Linked DNA regions of Homo sapiens. The protein of the gene in region 4 purifies or fractionates together with the protein of the main gene of each other region. This does not show direct contact. Each region holds a gene or a part of one and is shown on either strand. Other genes may lie near its edges. The genes, in order: POLR2J2, TANGO6, NEDD1 and GPN2.

The links.
Region 1: the proteins of GPN2 (region 4) and POLR2J2 purify together in Homo sapiens (co-immunoprecipitation; one large-scale study listed by IntAct). This does not show direct contact.
Region 2: the proteins of GPN2 (region 4) and TANGO6 purify together in Homo sapiens (affinity purification with mass spectrometry; one large-scale study listed by BioGRID and IntAct). This does not show direct contact.
Region 3: the proteins of GPN2 (region 4) and NEDD1 purify together in Homo sapiens (affinity purification with mass spectrometry; one large-scale study listed by BioGRID and IntAct). This does not show direct contact.

What each region holds. Positions count from the first base shown.
Region 1 is NC_000007.14:102,668,853-102,673,028, forward strand, and holds the start of POLR2J2 (DNA-directed RNA polymerase II subunit RPB11-b1), read right to left. Parts: upstream 2,812-4,176; 5' UTR 2,750-2,811; coding exon 2,700-2,749; intron 153-2,699; coding exon 63-152; intron 1-62. UniProt on the Homo sapiens protein: DNA-dependent RNA polymerase catalyzes the transcription of DNA into RNA using the four ribonucleoside triphosphates as substrates. Component of RNA polymerase II which synthesizes mRNA precursors and many functional non-coding RNAs.
Region 2 is NC_000016.10:68,926,972-68,930,538, reverse strand, and holds part of TANGO6 (transport and Golgi organization protein 6 homolog), read right to left. Parts: intron 2,972-3,567; coding exon 2,456-2,971; intron 302-2,455; coding exon 244-301; intron 1-243.
Region 3 is NC_000012.12:96,910,257-96,913,823, reverse strand, and holds part of NEDD1 (protein NEDD1), read right to left. Parts: intron 1,102-3,567; coding exon 1,007-1,101; intron 1-1,006. UniProt on the Homo sapiens protein: Required for mitosis progression. Promotes the nucleation of microtubules from the spindle.
Region 4 is NC_000001.11:26,883,757-26,887,323, forward strand, and holds part of GPN2 (GPN-loop GTPase 2), read right to left. Parts: intron 2,378-3,567; coding exon 2,217-2,377; intron 535-2,216; coding exon 404-534; intron 1-403. UniProt on the Homo sapiens protein: Small GTPase required for proper localization of RNA polymerase II and III (RNAPII and RNAPIII). May act at an RNAP assembly step prior to nuclear import.

The DNA.
Region 1 (4,176 bases), on a different chromosome or scaffold from region 4:
TGTGCTTTGCCCAGAGGGGCCCATTAAACATAGCCCCTGAGAGCCTGTGACGGGAAACTTACGATTTAATGATGTTTCCCAGTGTGTGGTCTTCTTTGTTGATGGTGAATAAGCAGGCCTTGGGTACCTTGGTGTCCTTGTTAATGGTGATCCTAGGAAGACACAGAGGCCACAGATGAGGAGCAGGGGCTCCCCTCCTCCCACCCTGAGTCTAAACCCTGTCTCCTCCCGGCCAGGTGTGGTGGCTCGTGTCTGTAATCCCAACACTTTGGGAGGCTGAGGTGGATGGATGACCTGAGGTCAGAAGTTCAAGACCAGCCTGCCCAACATGGCAAAACCCTGTCTGTACTAAAAATACAAAGAAAAAAAAAAAATTAGCTGAGTGTGGTGATCCATGCCTGTAGTCCTAGCTACTTGGGAGACTGAGGCAGGAGAATCACCTGAACCTGGGAGGTGGAGTTGCAGTGAGCCGAGATCATGCCACTGCACTCCAGCCTGGGCAACAGAGTGGAACTCTGTATCAAAAATATAAAAATAAAAAGGAAAAATAAGCTCTGCCTCTTCCTGAAGGCCTTTCTCAATCTCTTCATCCCATAAAGGCCTCGCCAACCCGGTCCCCTACTTCCTGCTACCCCAGGTCTATGGAACCTTGGCCTTTTCTGAATTCCTCCTTTTTTTTTTCCGGTAGAGATGGGGTTTTGCCTTGTTGTCCTCGCTGGTCTTGAACTCCTCGCCTCAAATGATCTCTCCTGCTGCCCAGGCTGGAGTGCAGTGGTGTGATCATAGCTCACTGCAGCCTCCAACTCCTCGGCTAAAGTGATCCTCCCGCCTTAGCCTCCTGAGTAGCTGGGACCACAGGCGCACGTCATCATGCCTGGCCTGTTCCTTTCTTCTTACGCCAACATAATGAAGCAACCAAAAGGTGAAGAAGAGAGGCCCTGAAGTTACACGGTGAGGCTGGTCCTGACCCTGTGAGTTCCGAAAGCAACCATCCCCCTGGCTGGAGTGTGCAGTCCTTCCATCCATTCCCCAAAACAAGTCATGCTCTGGCATTTACTATGATTTTAGTGAACGCTTAGATGGACAAAGACAGGAAACTTCCATTGGATTTTCCAAGACAAGGGGTTTTCAGAGTGCAGTTCCCAGATAAGCAGCATCAGAATCCCCTGGGAACTTGTTAAGAGTCTCCCACCTCCCACTTACTGGACCCAGAACTCTGGAGGTGGGGCGCAGGGATCTATGGTTTAAGAAGCCCTTCAGGTGATTCTAATGCACACTCAATTTGAGGGCAACTATGCTGACAGTAAAATCTCACACAGGTGAGAGGTATCAAGTTGAATATCCTTTTTTCTAAGGTGGTTTCTCCAGGCTGACACCACACACATTTTAGGGTGCATCATTCTTTCCTGTGGGGTGCTGTCTTGTGGACATTGTAGGACATCAGCAGCATCCCTGACCTCTACCCAGTAGATTCCAGTCATAACCCCCTTTGACAACCAATAATGTTCTCAGTTATTGCCACATGTCCCTTGTGGGGCCAAATGGTCCCCAGTTGAGAGTCTGCTCTAAAGGAGGCCGAAGTGGCTGGCAAGGGCCAGACCAAGACCTCTGCACGCCAACCTGGGAACAATAAGAGCCAATGGTTATGAGGTTTTCCAGGGGCTGAGCTTTGGACCAAGAGTTTTACACAAATTACCTCATCCAATTCTTTTTATTTTGAGACAGGATTGCGCTCAGTCGCCCAGGCTGGAGTGCAGTGATGCGATCAAAGCTCACTGCAGCCTGGAACTCCTGTGCTCAGCTCAAGCAATCCTCCCACCTGAGCCTCCCAAAGTGCCGGGATTAAAAGCGTGAACCAGCGCACCTGGCCAGATCCCTTTTTTTGTTTTTTGAAACGGAGTTTCGCTCTTGTTGCTCAGGCTGGAGTGCAATGGCGTGATCTCCGCTCACCTCAACCTCCACTTCCCAGGTTCAAGTGATTCTCCTGCCTCAGCCTTCTGAGTAGCTGGGATTACAGGCATCTGCCACCACGCCCGGCTAATTTTGTATTTTTAGTAGAGACAGGGTTTCTCCATGTTGGTCAGGCTGGTCTTGAACTCCCGACCTCAGGTGATCCGCCCGCCTCGGGCTCCCAAAGTGCTGGGATTACAGGTGTCAGCCACCGCACCCGGCCTGAATCCCACGTTTAAGTACAGTAATAAACTCATTTTCCAGATGAGGAAACAGGGCCTCCGACAGATCAAGCCACTCGCCCACAGATACAGAGTGAGCCCAAGCTCTCTCCCCTGGACTCCTTCAACCCGCAGGCAGCGAGGAGCCACTGCGGCTTTTACGCAGGCCGCTGACAGATCGGAGGGGATGAAGGATGGAGGTGGCGGGCGAGAGACAAAAAGAGGAAGCTGCCAGATCCCAGAGGAAAAGGGCTATGGAGAACCAGACACTCTGGGTTCGAATACAAGCGCCGCCACTTCCTGTGTCCGGGGCAACTTGCTCGCCTCCAAGCCTCAGTGTCCTCATCTGCAACATGGACACACTCGCGACTGCCTCGCGGAACGGCCTTAAATTTGGCTGACACAGGCCGAGCAGACGATCAAGCAAAAGCTGTTTCCCTCCCGGGGCAAGAGATGGGCAGGAGACACCCCAGAATGCGACAGCCGCAGGCCCGCGCACCTAGGCCCTCCGCAGCCGGCGTCACTTACTTCTCGCCCTCGAAGAGCAAGAACGACTCGAAGGCTGGAGGGGCGTTCATGCTCCCGCCGCCGTTGCGTCCAGACCCCAAGTGTCCGCCACCGCCGCCACCAGAGCCCTAATAAGAGGCCTCTTCCGGATTACTCCGGCGGGGCAAACCCGCCCAAGGATCGGCTCATCGCCCCCCGTTGGGCTGGAGGATCTTGCGCAGGCGCGAGAAAACCCCGAGAGAGACCAGTGCCTCTGCGCATGCGTCAGTGGCGAGCGCACCGCTCCCCCCCACCCCGCACCCCGCACCCCGGCATGGCTTTCCCCGTGGGCGCTTTTCGGCGCATGCTCAGAGCGCCAGCAGGGCTGTTCTGCCCCTACAGAGGCCTCCTAGTCCTGGCTGAGCGGGAACCTCAAGCTGTACCTTTCTCCTTTCCCCATGTCCCTTGATCTCTCTTTGGAAACGTGCACCCCCTTGGAGTGCGCAGCAGGAGGCCCCTGAATAGAGAGAATAAAGCTAAGGGGTAGTGGACAGCTGCGGCTAGCAGCCGTAGGGGGAGCAGAAGATCTCGTGGCCAGAGGCAGATCTATGACAAGCCCCCTGCCCAGGCTGCCTATACCGACTGCTGCAGGACCTCTGCCTGGGGGGTGCAGCTGGCTTGTTAGCCGGGAGGGACAATTGGGTGAGGGATGCAGAAGGAGGCAGGTGTATACAGCAGTGAGAGGGGAGCCCGTAGGGTTACGTATATCTTTTTATATATTATTATTATTATTTAGAGACAGCGTCTCCCTCTGTCGCCCAGGCTGAAGTACAGTGGCGCCATCATGCAGCCTCCAACTCCTGGGCTCCAGAGATCCTCCTGCCTCAGCCTCCCGATAGTTAGGACTGCAGGCATGTGCCATCACACTTAGCTATTTTTTTTTTTATTTTTGGAGATGGTGGGGGGGGGGTCTCCCTATGTTGCCCAGGCTGGTATTGAACTCCTGGCCTCCAGCAGTCCTCCAGCCTCAGCCTCCCAAAGTGCACTTGGTGGATGTGGGCAGCAAGCCACCCAGGTGCCGAGGCAAGAGACCGAGGGCACGAGCTGTTCCAGTATAATAAAATATATAAAATAAGAATAGTTATACTAGATATAGATCTTAGATATGATTATATATGAATCATTAATCATTAGTTTGTAGTAATTATTCTTTATTCCAGTATTATAATAATCCTCGCTCTACAATCATAACCTAGGAAAAACCAGGCCATACAGAGATGGGAGCTGAGGGGACAGTGAGGAGTGACCAGAAGACAAGAGTGCAAGCTTTCTGTTATGCCCGGACAGGGCCACCAGAGGGCTCCTTGGTCTAGCGGTAACGCCAGCATCTGGGAAGACACCTGTTGCCAAGCCCACCGTGGTCTAGCGGTAGCGTTAGTGTCAAGGAAAAACACCCGCTACTTAGCAGACCGGGAAAGGGAGTCTCCCTTTCCCCGGGGGAGTTTAGAGAAGACTCTAC
Region 2 (3,567 bases), on a different chromosome or scaffold from region 4:
AGAATATGTAAACATTAATAAAAACTTCCTCATCATTATGAGACACTGAAACTCTATAGGGACTCTTTGGAAACCCTTCAGGAATATTATTATTATGACTTAAAGTGTCCTAGCTAGGAGGCAGGAAGACGGACAAAATGACCAGTAGTCTCCTGGCCCTAGGACTTTAGAGATTTTGTGCAAATAAACATGATACAGTCTCTGGTCCACATACTTAAAGTCCTTTAACCAGGACTGACTTACCCTGAATTGCAGATAGATATACAAAAGTGTCTTCATGTTCCAAGTTTTCCAAGAATATCTGGAACCACAAAATACAGCAGTGATAAGATTTACAAAGAACAAGGAAGATTTAAGAGGCTCCCTTATCAGCAGCTCAAAGGAGTAAATGCTTCGCTTCTTGTTTTTCTTGGGTAGAAACTGGTCTGACAGAGTTTTGTGGGGGAAATGGCATATATGCTTAAGTCTCATTTTTATAACCATTAAAAAAGTATAGAGACTGGGGGAGATACTTGTATTCTTCCAGCAGTAGTCCTGGAAACCGATGGAAGAACAATCCTCAACATTTTTCCATGACAGCCATGGTGAATAACATTCTCACATATGGCATGACAGACTACGGGGTGTGACACACAAGAGACAAGGTTTGGGGTTATGTGCAATGGATGGCACATTTGCTGCAATTTGATCCTTTTCTCTTGTACTCACAAAGCATATGGAAGTGCAAGTGAGATAGAGATGTTATTATTGAGATAACTTTGAATCTGTTCTAATTTATTTTTGAAAATCTTGTAAATTTCAGCACTTTAATTGATATTAGTAACAAATTACTCTCAAAATATCTTACAATTTAGGAACCTATCAGGGGTATCAACTACAGTGAGTACAGCTTATCTGGAAGATATTACATGATATGTTAGGTTTAGGCCCCAACATGAGAGCCAGAGAAAGGAAGACGGAAGTGTCTGCTCCATATATAATGCTGTGTTCTTCGTTGGCACAGTAATTCTTGACATCAACTTGATGCTGCTGGTCTCTACATGTGAAGTATGTACGGAGAGCCTAAAATTACCCCAGTTAGGAAGACGGCCAGTTTTGAAGGTAGGGAATCTTTTATGGAGTAAGCAAGGGAAGCTTAATTTAGGGTAATGGCCATGGAAATAAAGAGGATAAGATACATTTGAAAGACTTCTTTGAAAAAAGAATTGACAGGACTTGGTGACCAATTATGTACAGCAGAAGAAGGTTTAATTAAGCTAAAAAAAATTCCAAGATGTTCATTGAATTCACCTTCAAATAGGTGTATAAAAGGATATTTAAGGCCAGGCGCGGTGGCTCATGCCTGTAATCCCAGCACTTTGGGAGGCCGAGGCAGGTGAATCACTTGATGTGAGGAGTTCAACACCAGCTTGGCTAACATGGTGAAACCTCATCTCAACTAAACGTACAAAAATTAGCTGGGTGTGTTGGTGGGCACCTGTAATCCCAGCTACTTGGGAGGCTGAGGCAGAAGAATCACTTGAACCCAGGAGGTGGAAATTGCAGTGAGCTGAGATCGCACCACTGCACTCCAGCCTGGGCGACGGAGCGAGACCCTGTCTCAAAAAAACAAAACAAAACAAAACAAAAAACAGCTATTTCACCACGATGAAGGGAGAGAAGAGGGGAGGAGACCCAGTTTTGCCCAACGCCCCACTAAAGATGCCCAGAGAAAACAGGTGGCTTATCTGGGCTGGGTCACAGTGTTGAAGCAGACCTATTTATCACAAAAGGTACTTTCCCATCTCTGGGAATTTGTTCAAGCTATCCCACCCCTCTTTCATCTGCTCAAACTTTACTAGTTTGTTATGGCCATATTAAGGCCTACATCCTCCAGAAGATTTCAACTTTCTCTTTTTCCTGACTGCCCACAGCATTTCTTGCATGCAAAAATTTTGAAGGATGGGTGTGGTGGCTCACGCCTGTAATCCCAGCACTTTGGGAGGCCGAGGCAGGTGGATCACGAGGTCAGGAGATCGAGACCATCCTGGCTAACATGGTGCCCGTCTCTACTAAAAATACAAAAAATTAGCCGGGGGTGGTGGCAGACACCTGTAGTCCCAGCTACTCGGGAGGCTGAGGCAGGAGAATGGTGTGAACCCAGAAGGCGGAGCTTGCAGTGAGCCGAGATTGCACCACTGCACTCCAGCCTGGGGGACAGAGCGAGATTCCATCTCAAAAAAAAAAAAAAAAAAAAAAAATTGGCACTCAGTTCATATTCATTTGAGGAGTTTAAGTCTTTCCTGTGTCTAAATAAATCTTTCCTGTGTCTAAGTGTTGCCTCCTCACAAAATTCACAAATTTCTGGAGGGTGGTCCAGAACAGCACTTGACACATAGTCCAGGCTCCAAAAATACTTGAGTTGAATGAATGCCCCACCCTGTGCCCATGTGTCTTTACAGTGTGTTCTACTCACCTTGAGAAGCTTCTCTTGCATCTCAAGGGCTTTTGCTTCTCTCTGCTCTATCCAGTGGGAAAGAGTACGCAGGGCAGCAGCCCGTGTTGGAATTTGAGGGTCATAAGCTGACAAAAGAACCTCTTGGAGCTGTTCTGTGGTTACGCTTCCAGATTTCTGACTTGTAGTAGTGCTGGGCTCATTGACTCCTTGAGGAATGATTGGAGCATTTGACTGCAGGCCTGTCTGGGGGGCTGTCTCATGGCTCTGCTGTTGTTCAAGGTGGCTATGAGCTACATCAGTGGGTCTTTCATGACTGGTTTGTTGCTGCTCTTCTATTTTCCCTTCCAGATCTTTTCTGTTCAGTGTACTTTGGGCAGCCATGCTGACGGCCTCAGTGGCAAAGGCTCCATGGGTAGAGATGGTGATGCGGAGATCAACAGCGAGTTCTTGGATGACCGGATCAGGGTATGTGTTGGATACCTTCTCCAACAGAGGCAACAACTGCTTCAGAACAGCAAAATCACTTGACTTCAACTACAAAATGAAATAAAAAATGTCAAACCCAAATTAACATAGCAAATTTCAATATGACCTGAGCACCAGGAAACATATTCTGAGAAAAAAGGGCAGGGATCAAATCTTGCTCATGGTGTAATCAGTGTATTGCCTGGGTCCAGCACTGAATACCATTTGTTGAATAATCATACCTAACATTTATTGAACACTTATCATATACAGGTTCTTTTCTAAGATAAAACACACACACACACATTCATATCCTTGTGATATAATGACTATTATTATCTACATTTTAAACAGGTGGAAACAGAACGGTTAAGTAACATGCCCAAGGTCACAGACTGGAAGATAGTAAGATGTGAACTCAAGAAACTGGGATCAGAGCCCACACTCTCACCCAATACCCTACGCAGTCTCCCTTGAAAAGATAAGGCTGTTCTTAACTACATGATCTAAAGTGGCCAGTCAGTATGCAAGTGCACCATAGATCTGGAAGGGATCACAGAGAAAACGGGAAGAAAGGGATTTCTTCTGGAAAGTGGAAGTGAAAATTATATAACATTTTATTCTCCATGGAAGCTTTGTCTGAATAATGTCATATGCCTTACTAC
Region 3 (3,567 bases), on a different chromosome or scaffold from region 4:
AAATTAAAAAAAAAAGCTATCAACTACCATATCTTTTTATTTAAATCTTATCTTATTTAAAAAAGAAATAGCTTTCAAAGAGTGTGTGACTAGAAATGAAGAAGCCAGTATTATCCTTAATCAGAGGGATTAACTTATAAAACAAAAGGATAGGCTGGGTGTGGTGGCTCATGCCTGTAATCCCAGCACTTTGGGAGGCTGAGGCGGGCGGATCATGAGGTCAGGAGTTCAAGACCAGCCTGGCCAACATGGTGAAACCCCGTCTCTACTAAAAATACAAAAATTAGCCAGGCGTGGTGGTGGGCACCTGTAATCCCTGCCACTTGAGAGGCTGAGGCAGGAGAATCGCTTGAACTGGGGAGGCGGAGGTTGCAGTGAGCTAAGATTGCACCATTGCACTCCAGCCTGGGCAACAGAGCGAGACTCCATCTCAAAAGAAAAAAAAAAAAGGATAAGGCAACAGTACGTAGTGAGAGCTTCATTTAAACGCCCTGGGACCTAAGCTCATTTTGACAAAGCCAACCTGTTTAAGGAGAGTATGGGGGAGGCTCAGACAGGCCCCTCAGTACAGGTGGACAGAATCTGAAGCAGAGAGCTACCATCAGCTGTGAGTCTGTTCCTGATGGTCCTGAGCCCAAGATCAGTAAAGCAGTGCTGTGTCATTAGAGTTTATATGCTCAGGTCAACCTAGTAACCTATGTGGGATATCGTCCTAAAATAGCAGCAACAGAGATCCTCTCCCACTGAGGGAAAATGGAGAAATGAAGTGCCTAGTCAACAAAATTCAAGTCTTCAATTGTTCCCCTATATTCAAAACTATTTTACCTAAAAATACTTTAGTAAGTACACATATCTCATTTTTAAGTGTTACTATATTATTTTGAGCTTAAGTTAAAAATAATGCTTTTAAAAACCTTTATATTTAGTCGCAAGCACCACAATAAGCAATTGCCAGTCAAGCAAAACTAAGATTTTTAAAAGTTTAAAAAAAAAAAAAATCACTTACCCCTTCAGCAAGCTCTAAAAGTGGAACAGGTTTACATTTGCAACTTGAGACAACTATTTTGTCGCCACTGGAAGATGCTGTTACTAAAAAGTTATCTAAATGAGGAGTTATGGAGCATCAAACAATCCATGAACATCTATAGCACTAGACTATTATAAGAATTGCGATTATAAAAGCTAACACACTAAGAAGACAAGCAATGAGTATAGCTTACAGAGTAGCTTTCAAAAATGGCTCACATTACTATTAATAATTACTAAGACTAATTCTCTTTGCTACTACTGCAGGGAAGAACTAGCCTTCTTTCTGGCTCTGCTATCACTCAAAAGCTATTTAACCCACGTGAAATACTACTCTGTTTTCAAAGAGTAGGCCAGAAGGGCTAATTTTATCCTTCAAGAATGAGAGCATGATAAAAGCAGCATCAGCAAATATCAATCAACCTTTTCATCTACAGAAACTGTTCAAGATATTTATTAACCTAGTGCTTGGTAACAATCTAAACTAGGAAGCAAACATCCACACTAGTCTCCTATTTTTCTATTTAAAAAAAAAAAAGGCCTGATATTTTCCCAGAACATGAATTTTTGTGATAGAATGTTTCAATCTTAAATTAAGAATGACTATTACAGTAACTTGCAAATATTTTATAAATATGTATGGTTAAATAGGAATTGTGTTATGAGTTTTAATTTTTAAATAAAATGTAATTTTATTTACCTTCTTTTACACGAATTGTAAATGGAACAATCAGTAAACACAAAACAGTAACTATTTTAAAACTAAAATGATTAAATACAATAATATAACTAAGAATAAGAGTCTGATTTTGAGAGCCATAACAAATTAAAATATCAGAAGTTTAAATCTGTGCTTTTTAGCAATTAAAATCTGTGAGTAAAAGCAATGGAGAAAGGTTAATTAGACACTCAGAATCCCTAACTGCATTAACTTTTGAATGTTCTGTATAACTTTCAGGTATTTTGTAAACAGAGCATAGACTGTAATTTTATTATGATACATGATGCAAATCAAATCATTCCTACCTAGATATTACCATAGCGAGAAAAACCATTTCCCTTTCCTTGACTTCTTCCTGTTTACCACTACTTTTCTCCTTAGAATATAGAAAAAAAAGGACTGAAACATAATGTGGGTGGGTAATCTAGTTCTTTTTTATTTCTCTTGTAGTTTTAGAAATCATGAGAAAGTGAGGAACGTAAGTTAAAGGACAAGAAACAAAAAACTAATCTCTCTGGTGTCTCACATTAACCCCATTCTTGGAATCTATACTATGTGGACCCCAAGTTGCTAAGGCTGGGAACTCCTTGTTCTTCAGTAATTAACCTCCATGGAAGTGATCAAAGCCTTATTAAGAATAAGACTGTATGAAGGCTTTCAGTGCACATCTGCTCATGCAAGAAAACTGTAAGACCAATTTCCAAAAGTCATACAACACTATCTCATAGCTACATCAGTTTTGTTGTTAGACTATTAAGTAGCACATCAGTAAATGCCAACTCCTAGTAAAACTTAAAACAAAAGTCAACCAAAAAATAATCTTACTACAAATTGCTACCTTTCTCTTATATAGTAAGAGGGAAAATTAAGCTCTAAACATAATGAAAATCTAAAAATAGAGAACAGCAACTTCATATACTTGTCGCTCTCTTTAAAATATTTTCCCTATTACACATCTGGAAAGTCCTTCAAAAATGTAGTCACTTCACCATGAGTTTGATTAACAGAGTACCAAAGTAATTTGTTTTACTGCAAAATCAAGGAATGATAAGGAGGTAAATTTAATTCAGTAAGAAAATTTGTCCTTCTTGTTATATACATGCAAGAATAGTAAGTCATATAAAACTTTTAATATTTTTGTTCCTGAACCAGTCACATTTTAAAGCTTTGATTTTTTTATCAGAAAGTAGAATACTTTGGTGTTGATAAAAATCAGATAAATGTTAAATCTTAATTTGTTAAGAAATAGCGTATGAGTTTCACAAAAGAAAATTTCTAACATACCAATTACATAAAACATTTTCACATAAAAGGTGATAGGAGCACTGTGGTCACAGCAGTGGTTCTCTACTGGGAGTGATTCAGGCAATTCTGGAAACGTTTTGGGTTGTCACAACTAGAGGCTATTGGTACCTAACGGGTGAAGACCAATAAACCTCCACGTGGTACAACATACAGGAAAGGTCCACAACAAATTTTCTGCCCCAAAAAGTCAATAGCACAGGGTTCAGAAACCCTAGTTTACAGTCTTCACTCCCTCATTTTATTTTATCCACATTGAGGAGCTCACCAAGACAGGGAAGGTGTCAATCAGAAACATAAAAAGCTTAGAAAAGTTCAATCTAGGTAACTTTACTATGTCTGTTTAGGAAATGTAATTTTCATCACACACACAGAGAGGAAGGAAGATATGGAGAGTACATTAGTAAGATGGAGATATTGGGCAATTTTTTATCTCCTCCCCAACTTGCTTCTGCCTTCAAGTTCTGTCTTTAATTTTCAGTTCAGATCCACAAATACCCAAATGTAGATGCAAAAAC
Region 4 (3,567 bases):
GCCTGGGCAACAAGAGCGAAACTCCCTTTCAAAAAAAAAAAAGAAAAAAGAAATTGGGTGGATCACAAGGTCAGGAGATCAAGACCATCCTGGCCAACACAGTGAAACCCCGTCTCTACTAAAAATACAAAAAATTAGCTGGGCGTGGTGGTGGGTGGCTGTAGTCCCAGCTACTCAGGAGGCTGGGGCAGGAGAGTGGCGTGAACCCGGGAGGCAGAGCTTGCAGTGAGCTGAGATCGTGCCACTGCACTCCAGCCTGGGCGACAGAGCAAGACTCCATCTCAAAAAAAAAAAAAAAAAAAGAAATTGGTCATCCACAAGGTTGATGACTGCACCTCCTGTGGCCATTCTTGAGTCCCATGTCTCACCCTCTCTGCTATGGCCAGGAAGCTGGCAAGGATACGAAGAGAAATGGAAGTCGGCTCCCATTGCGGCAGACATCATGGCTTCCAAGCTTCGCTGCTCTTGGGCTCTGAAACAGTATCCATTGGCTTTATCCACAGCCTGCAGGACTCGCTGGATGCTCTCCTTGTCCTGAGCAGGGAGGAGAGAAACAGTTCTGTGAGTGAAACAGAAGTATGTAAAACTGCTTGCAATCTCTAAATACACCTTCCTCCATCTTGCCTCTGTACCTGTAGCTTTCTTGGCCTGGAGTAGTTCTACATGTCCCCAAAGGCTGGATAAATCTCATGTTTCCTGACCACCAACTCACTCAGATTAGAACAGATAAGCTCCCCTATGCATATCCACAGTCCCCTGGGTTTACACCTATTGTACATGGTATCCCTGCCATGTAATAAACGCCTATTAACTCACCTGCCTCCCCTACTCAACTAAACACCCCTTAGGGCCAGGTCATCTGTCGCAGTATTCCCAGTGCCTGGCACAGTACTTCTCTTAAGTAGACATCCAATGAATATGCATGTTTTAAATCTATAACTGGGCCAGGCACGGTGGTTCACACCTGTAAAGCCCAGCACTTTGGGAGGCCAAGGCAGGTAGATCACTTAAGGTCAGGAGTTCAAGAGCAGCCTGGCCAACATGGTGAAACCCTGTCTCTACTGAAAATACAAAAATTAGTTGGGCATGGTGATGGATGCCTGTAATCCCAGTTACTTGGGAAGCTGAGGCAGGAGAATCGGTTGAACCCAGGAGGCAGAGGTTGCAGTGAGCCAAGATAACGCACTGCACTCCAGCCTGGGTGACAGAGTGAGACTCCGTCACAAAAAACAAAACAAAACAAAAAAAAACTATAACTGTTTCCTCATCCACATACAGTGATAAGAACAGTCCATATATCACATGGTGGGAAGGACAAAGCAAAATTATGTATGTGTAGTCCTTAGCACAGTGCCCAGCACAGAAAGCCATAAATAAGAGGTAATTGTTGTGATTGATATTATAGAGTTCATCTCCTCATATCAGAAGAGTGTGGCATTAGAAGGGAGGAGACAAGTTAGCTCAAGTCCACCCACTGCAGAAAGGAATCTAACATGCACCTGCGTCTCCCAGGTTATCTCTGCAGGGTAAAGGTGAGAGGCACAGGGGTTGGGTACCACTTTGCAAAGTCAACAGACAGTTGCCCAGTTGAAAGGGCTTAAGAGACTTGTCCCTGGTCCTGGTGAACTTTCTTGCTGATGACTTTCTGAACTCACCCATTTTCACAGAGGACAGAACATGTGAAGAGAGGATCCAGCAACACAAAATAGACAGGGCAAAAGTTTGGTCCACTCTCTTTACTGGAATTCTGCCCCTACAGCAGCCCCTGGTCCTGAAACTAAGGTTACTCTCAGTGATACTCAACCCAGGGCAAAGACCACTCTTTTTTTTTTTTTTTTTTTGAGATGGAGTCTCACTCTGTCGCCCAGGCTGGAGAGCAATGGCGTGGTCTCGGCTCACTGCAAGCTCTGCCTCACGGGTTCACGCCATTCTCCTGCCTCAGCCTCCTGAGTAGCTGGGACTACAGGCACCTGCTACCACGCCCAGCTAATTTTTTGTATTTTTAGTAGAGACGGGGTTTCACTGGGTTAGCCAGGATGGTCTCGATCTCCTGACCTCATGATCTGCCCACCTCGGCCTCCCAAAGTGCTAGGATTAGAGGCTTGAGCAACCGCGCCCAGCCGGCAAAGACCATTCTTTAAGCCCTCAAAGCTTCCTGTGCTTTTGGCTTGGTGAATCCCATGCACTGTCAAGAGTCCCGTCTTAGCCCCTAGTACCTGGATGTTGAGAGGGATAAAGGAGACAAGGCTATAGTCTTCGATGAGCTGCACTAGCTTCTCATTGAGCTGGCGGTAGTGGCGGAAGAAAGGGTCAGAAGCCAGGTGGTCAAGCAGGTAGGAGAGGTCCAGAACCTCTGTGTAGTAGTCCAGGTTGAAGGCTAAAGAGAGAAACCAGTGTTCAGGAGCAACCAGTATCAGGCTAAAGACCTGAGGACGAGGTTCCTTTTTCCTTTTTTCCTTTGTGCACTCATGCACTCAAATATTTCTTGACACAGTAAAATGAAGTTACTAAGAAAAAAAGCATTTGGTTTTACCTGCTGGCTCTGCTATTTACTAGCTATATAGGCAGGTATCTACTTCATAGGACTGTTATGAAGATTAAATGCTATAAACCCCAGTGTCTGGTACAGAGAAGTGCTTGATCAATAACTGCAAACAGGCTGGGCACGGTGGCTCATGCCTGTAATCCCAGCACTTTGGGAAGCCGAGGTGGGTGATTACCTGAGGTCAGGAGTTCAAGACCAGCCAACATGGTGAAACTCCATTTCTCCTAAAAATACAAAATTAGGCCAGGTGCGGTGGCTCAAGCCTGTAATCCCAGCACTTTGGGAGATGGACGGATCACAAGGTCAGGAGATCGAGACCATCCTGGCTAACACGATGAAACCCTGTTTCTACTAAAAATACAAAAAATTAGCTGGGCGTGGTGGCGGGTGCCTGTAGTCCCAGCTACTCAGGAGGCTGAGGCAGGAGAATGGCGTGAACCCAGGAGGGGGAGCTTGCAGTGAGCCGAGATCGCGCCACTGCACTCCAGCCTGGGCGACACAGCAAGACTCCGTCTCAAAAAAAAAGAAAAAAAAATACAAAATTAGCCGGACGTGGTGGCACATGCCTGTAATCCCAGCTACACGGGAGGCTGAGGCAGGAGAATCGCTTGAATCCAGGAGGCGGAGGATGCAGTGAGCCGAGATTACACCATTGCACTCCAGCTTGGGCAACAAGAGCGAAACTCTGTCTCAAAAAAAAAAAAAAAAAAAAAAGTTGCAAATAATGATAACAAGTATGTACCAAGAACTGTGCATGGTCGTCCTCACCTCACAGAGCTCATAGTCAGGTCATACCCTCAGGACCTGGCACATACACTGCAAAGACTCTGTAAATGGTTAAACTGAATAAATGCTACATTCTAGCAGGGTAGCCTCCTGGGTAAATCACTTTCCTTTTCTGAGCCAGTTATTTCTTAATGTAAAATAAGGACTAGATGATGCTGAGGTCCCTGATTCAGTTTTATAAATCATTTCTCACTAAAAGAAGTAAGTTGGACTTCCCCCTAGTGGCCTGTTTCTGC